2 linked regions of the Homo sapiens genome follow. The protein of the gene in region 1 purifies or fractionates together with the protein of each later gene. This does not show direct contact. Each region holds a gene or a part of one and is shown in the gene's direction. Other genes may lie near its edges.

Region 1 (3,152 bases):
CGACAGAGCGAGACTCAGTCTCCAAACAAACAAACAAACAAAAAATACAAATCAATGTGTGAGAGTAAAGAGAGGAGAGCTATGGGCTACTTCAGACAGGTGGGGAAGGTTAGGGCAGGTGATACCTGAGCCAACCTGCAGTGTGAGGAATCCTCCCTGGGAAGAGCATTCCAGGCAGCAGGAACAGCAAGTGCAAAGGCCCTGAGGAAGGAAGGAGTGTGCTGTGTTCCAGGAAGCGATGGGAGACTGTGGGGTTGGGGTGGAAGGAGGTAAGGTGAAAGATGGGACGGGCTAGGTCACACTCTGTCTATGTGCCAGACACTTGCACAACCAGGGTGAAGAAAACCAGGCATCTACCGATGGTCTTTCACACTTGGCTGTCCTCTCTGTCCCCATGCATCTGCCTTGGTTCAGGACTTCACATCCTGAATGTTGGCCCCGGCTTTCTCAGTGGTCTCCCTCCTTCCTGTCTCTCTCCCTCACATCCAGTCTCTGCATCTATCACAGAGTGACCAGGTGACCCCTGCTTAAATCCCTTGATCCTTAGGATGAAAGGGGAGCTCCTTAGCTTGATGCAACAATTGACAGTCCCCTGAGGGGCCTCACCCCCACCCACCAGTAGGTTGTGATTCAACTGAACCATTTCAGGAGCACCTACTGTATTTAGATACAGTGCTAGGCTCTCTGGGGGAAAAAAAATAGCTAAGGGAACAAAACAGATACAGTCCACCCTTTGTATGGCCTCGAGTCAAATGTGGGAGATGTGAACTGAACAACTAGGTTAATCAATGTTAGGCTGCAGCCGAGACATCTGAGGATGGAGGATAACCATATTCTGAGGCTAATGCAAGAGAGAGCTGAAGCAGTCTGGATCGGGGATGGGGTCAGGGATGGTTTTCCCGAGAAAAAGGTGAGGAATGATCTGCCTCTGGGGTCCGAGGCTTTCCGGATCCAGGGAACAAAATGTGTACTTTCAAGGAAGCAAAGCAGGCTTTGGAGGAACTGGAGGAAGGCCAATGTGACTGGAGCATGGAGAAGCAGAAAGTGTGGCTCAGGAGAAGTCTGGAGAGTGCCGGACCCTGGAAATACAGCTGTGAGCAAAACCAATGTGGTCACTATTTTTATCGTCCTTAGCTGGTGGGGAGACAGACAACACTCAAGTTATATGTAGACACTAAGTGTGCTATGAGCCATAGGCTTTAAAGAAGGAGGGTGGAAGAGGATCACTGATGAGCCAGGGGGCCAGATTCCGGGAAGGGTTTCCAAGGAGCTGACAGATAAATAGACCTACGGGCATTCCAGGCAGTGAGAACAGCATGTACAAGGGCCCTGGGACCAGCATAATCTTGTTGTGTTAAAAGAGTAGAGAGAGAATAAATTTAGTGACAAAGAGGATAGAGATCCCTACACCCACACTGTACAGCAGGTGCATCGAGTCTGGAGCCAGAAAGGCAAATGAACATCACTCCCTGTTCCTTCTTCAGATCTGTGCCCCTGGCAGACATTACTAATCAAGCACTGCACTCTTTCTCATCCAGCCTCACCCTTCTCCTCACAGGCCTCCAGGAAGACATTACCATACTCACAAATCTCTCTCTGTTATTCCAAAATCTTAAATCAACAAGGACAAATATCAATACAAAAAACCTCTCTAAGGCACGGTTTTACACAGTCTACAAGCCTGGCAATGCCTCAGAAAAAAATACAGATTCCTGGACTCCCTCCTGGGAGATTCGATTCCCTAGACTTGGAAGTGATTCCCTGGATCTGTATGTGTGAAAAGCGTTCAGTGGGAGAAACTCTGAGCAGTAGCCGGATTCGGTTCAAAATCACTTCTCTGCCCTAACACACCTAAGGCCTGTATTCAGCTCATGATAACTGGCTCGGGATAGCAGGGCTTGACAAGGGAGAAGACACACCCTGCTAGGGCTGGCTGCTGTGTCACTTTAGAGCTGCACTGTCCAGTATAGCCATTAGCCACCGATAGTGATTTCTTTTTTTTTTTTTTTTTTTTTTGAGACAGAGTCTCGCTCTGTCGCCCAGACTGGAGTGCAGTGGCGCGATCTCGGCTCACTGCAAGCTCCGCCTCCCGGGTTCATGCCATTCTCCCGCCTCAGCCTCCTGAGTAGCTGGGACTACAGGCGCCCGCCACCACGCCCGGCTAATTTTTTGAATTTTTAGTAGAGACGGGGTTTCACCGTGTTAGCCAGGATGGTCTCGATCTCCTGACCTCATGATCCGCCCGCCTCGGCCTCCCAAAGTGCTAGGATTACAGGCGTGAGCCACCGCACCCGGGCTTTTTTTTTTTTTTTTTGAGACAGAGTCTCGCTCTGTCACCCAGGCTAGAGTGCAGTGGCACGTCTTTGGCTCACTGCATCCTCCACCTCCCGGGTTCAAGTGATTCTTCTACCTCAGCCTCCTGAGTGGCTGGGACTACAGGTCCCTGGGACTACCCGCCACCAGGCCCGGGTAATTTTTGTATTTTTAGTAAAGGCAGGGTTTCACCATGTTGATCAGGTTGGTCTCGAACTCTTGACCTCAAATGATCCACCCACTTCAGCCTCCCAAAGTGCTGGGATTACACACGTGAGCCACCGCACCCAGTCGTGTTTTTTTGTTTTTTTTGAGACACAGTCTCACCCTGTCATGCAGGCTGTAATGTGGTGGCATGGTCACGGCTTACTGCAGCCTCAAACTTCTTGGCTCAGCCTCCCAGGTAGCTGGGACCACAGGAGTGTGCCGTGTCCAGCTAGTTTTTAAAATTATTTGTAGAGACAAGGTTTCCCTGTGTTGCCTGGGCTGGTCTCAAACACCTAGGCTTATGCAATCCCAGAGTGCTGGGATTACAGGCGTGAGCCACCATGGCCAGCCAGGACATGGCCTTTTTAAGGACCGAAAGAATCTACCGTGACCCCAAACAGAGAGTGATAGGACGAGCGTTTCCCTAGATCATGGCCCTGTAGGTGTGACAGAGAGCTTGTGCCACAACCCTCTGGGAGTCCAGGAATCCGTTGTCCGGGCTAGGTTCTCAGCCCTGACGTTGTGCCCTTCCTCCCGCACCCCTAGGTCGTCCACACTGGTGAGAAACCCTACTGCTGCCTGGTCTGCGAGCTCCGCTTCTCCTCACGCTCCAGCCTGGGCCGCCACCTCAA
Region 2 (2,585 bases), on another chromosome or scaffold:
ATCCTAGCATTTTGGGATGCTGAGGTGGACGGATCACTTGAGGTCTGGAGTTCAAAAGCAGACTGACCAACATAGTGAAACTGAGTTTCTACTAAAAATACAAAAAAAAAATTAGCCAGGCATGGTGGCAGGTGCCTGTAATCCCAGCTACTTGGAAGGCTGAGGCAGGAGACTCGCTTGAACCCAGGAGGTGGAGGTTGCAGTGAGCCGAGATTACTCCACTGCACTCCAGCCTGGGCAACAGAGGGAGACTCTGTCTCAAAAATAAAAATAAACATAAAATAAAATACTTAAAAAACAGAGTCCAGAGGTAGTAATGGGGAACTGGGGAGAGAATCACTGAAAGATACCGTCCTGGCTACAAAATCACATGGAAGATGCAAGGAAATGGCTTGAGGTCCTCTACCCCACTGTCACTCCCCATACCCCCGACAAAAAAGATAACTAAATAAACAGACTGATGGATGGATGAATAGAAAGAGTGAGCAAGCAGTTGCTTGGATACATACTGATTCTGTCAATTCCTATGATTCTAAAACCTCTTAAGTAAACACTTTAGAAACTTTTCCAAAGTTTTGAGTTTTGTAAAAGAAAGAAAGGGAGGGAGGGAAGGTAGTTATATTCAGATTAGTATATATCTTCATATTCACAGTAAATATTAAATTATCTGAGAAATCCTAGATGAATCTGTTAATCGGTTCCTTTTGGTTTATGGATCCATAGAGTTGTTATATTTTTTACATTTTTATATTTAATTTCCCTCCCTCCAAAAAAAACTTTTTTATATTGACCTAGCCTGGTTTTTCTCAAGTTATTTCATTAAATCCTTTTTTAGTATGGGATATGTTAATTTTTTTTTGCTATAATATTATTCCAAAACAGTTTCAGATATGTGTCTCTATTTTCTCAGCAGCTCATTAACAGTAAGTAACCTCTTTAAGTTGGGCTATGTCCTAGGTATACAAAGTGCACAGTCTGTCTGCTCTGTCAAATATACTGGAAAAGCATGATTATTGTTCCCTTCTATTGTTCTAACCTTGGCTCAGTCCCCACACCCTACCCTGACATAACCTCTTAAATGGAATTGTAGTGAGCTGATGTCCAGATTATAGTTGAGCTCTTATGTTTTACAAATCAATGTTCTAGCTAAGTAGGAATAATAGCCTAGTCCAGCATTGTCAAATGAGAATATAATGCAAGCCACGTATGTTACTAAGTCTTCAGAAATCCAATGTGTATTTTACCTTTACAGTACGTATCAATTCAGACAAGTTCTCAGTAGCCACATTGGCTGGCTAGTGACTACTGTAATTGGATAGTGCAAGTGTAGTCAGGATATAAAAGGGAAAAAACGGAAGTAATTCATAGGAAAAGTGAGGAAGAAATTTTCCATTTGTTTTTTGGTTTTTTGTTTGTTTTTTGAGACAGGGTCTTGCTCTGTTGCCTAGGCTGGAGTGCGGTGGCACAATCTCAGCTCACTGCAGTCTCTGCCTCCCGCGTTCGATCAATTCTTGTGCCTCAGTCTCCTGAGTAGCTGGGATTACAGGCATATGCCACCAAGCCCAGCTAATTTTTGTATATTTAGTAGAGACAGGGTTTCCCCATGTTGGCCAGGCGGGTCTTGAACTCACTTCCTAAGGTGACCCACCTGCCTCAGCCTGCCCAGCCCAACAGAGTATTAAGCAACATCTTGGAAATTAACAGGAATAGTTTTATCCTCGTTTTATCAATAACTTAAGATGTTTACATTTAGGGTAAATGATCCATTTAAATTTTGATTTTTTTTTTTTGAGACGGAGTTTTGCTCTTGTCACCCAGGCTGGAGTGCAACGGAATGATCTCAGCTCACTGCAACCTCCACCTCCTGGGTTTAAGCAATTCTCCTACCTCAGCCTCCTGAGTAGCTGGGACTACAGGTGTGTGCCACTTATGCCCAACTAATTTTTTTTTTTTTTTTTTTTTTTTTTTTTTTTTTAGTAGAGACGGGATTTCACCATTTTGGTTAGTCTGGTCTCAAACTCCAGACCTCAGGTGATCCACCCACCTCGGCTTCCCAAAGTGCTAGGATTACAGGCGTGAGCCACCGCGCCCGACCAAACTGTTTTATATCTTGAATTTTGAGATTTAAATGTTTGAAAGAAGACTACTACCACTACTCTTAGTAAAACTACTAAATAGTCCTAAATGTTAAAATAACTGAGAGTTATAATATCACCTTCTAAATATTAAAGTACTGGGTTTTATCATTAATGTCTTCTGTATAGTCCCAGTATGGGAATATTCCTTTTTAAATTTGAAAACTTTTTAGTAATAAGGTACCAGGCAAGTTTTTATAAATAACATCAAATATGGTATTTTTCCTTTCCTTTTTAATGGGAAACAAAAGGAAAGTGGACACTTAAGTTATGCCTGTCCGAAAAATATGCTCGGAGAACGTGAGCCTCCAAAGAAGAAAGAAAAAAAGAAAAAAAAGAAAGCTCCTGAACCAGAAGAAGAAATGTATGTATATTATTCTTACTAAATACATCATCATGTTGCTTTTGTCTTTTGGTTGGTTGCTTTTGATTATTGGTTGGTTACATTCC

What was found.
Region 2: the proteins of FIZ1 (region 1) and ZCRB1 purify together in Homo sapiens (co-immunoprecipitation; one large-scale study listed by IntAct). This does not show direct contact.

Annotation. Positions count from the first base shown.
Region 1 is NC_000019.10:55,593,561-55,596,712, reverse strand, and holds part of FIZ1 (flt3-interacting zinc finger protein 1), read left to right. Parts: exon of another isoform or gene 1-817; coding exon of another isoform or gene 818-1,093; intron 1,094-3,066; coding exon 3,067-3,152. UniProt on the Homo sapiens protein: May be a transcriptional repressor of NRL function in photoreceptors. Does not repress CRX-mediated transactivation.
Region 2 is NC_000012.12:42,313,788-42,316,372, reverse strand, and holds part of ZCRB1 (zinc finger CCHC-type and RNA-binding motif-containing protein 1), read left to right. Parts: intron 1-2,386; coding exon 2,387-2,499; intron 2,500-2,585.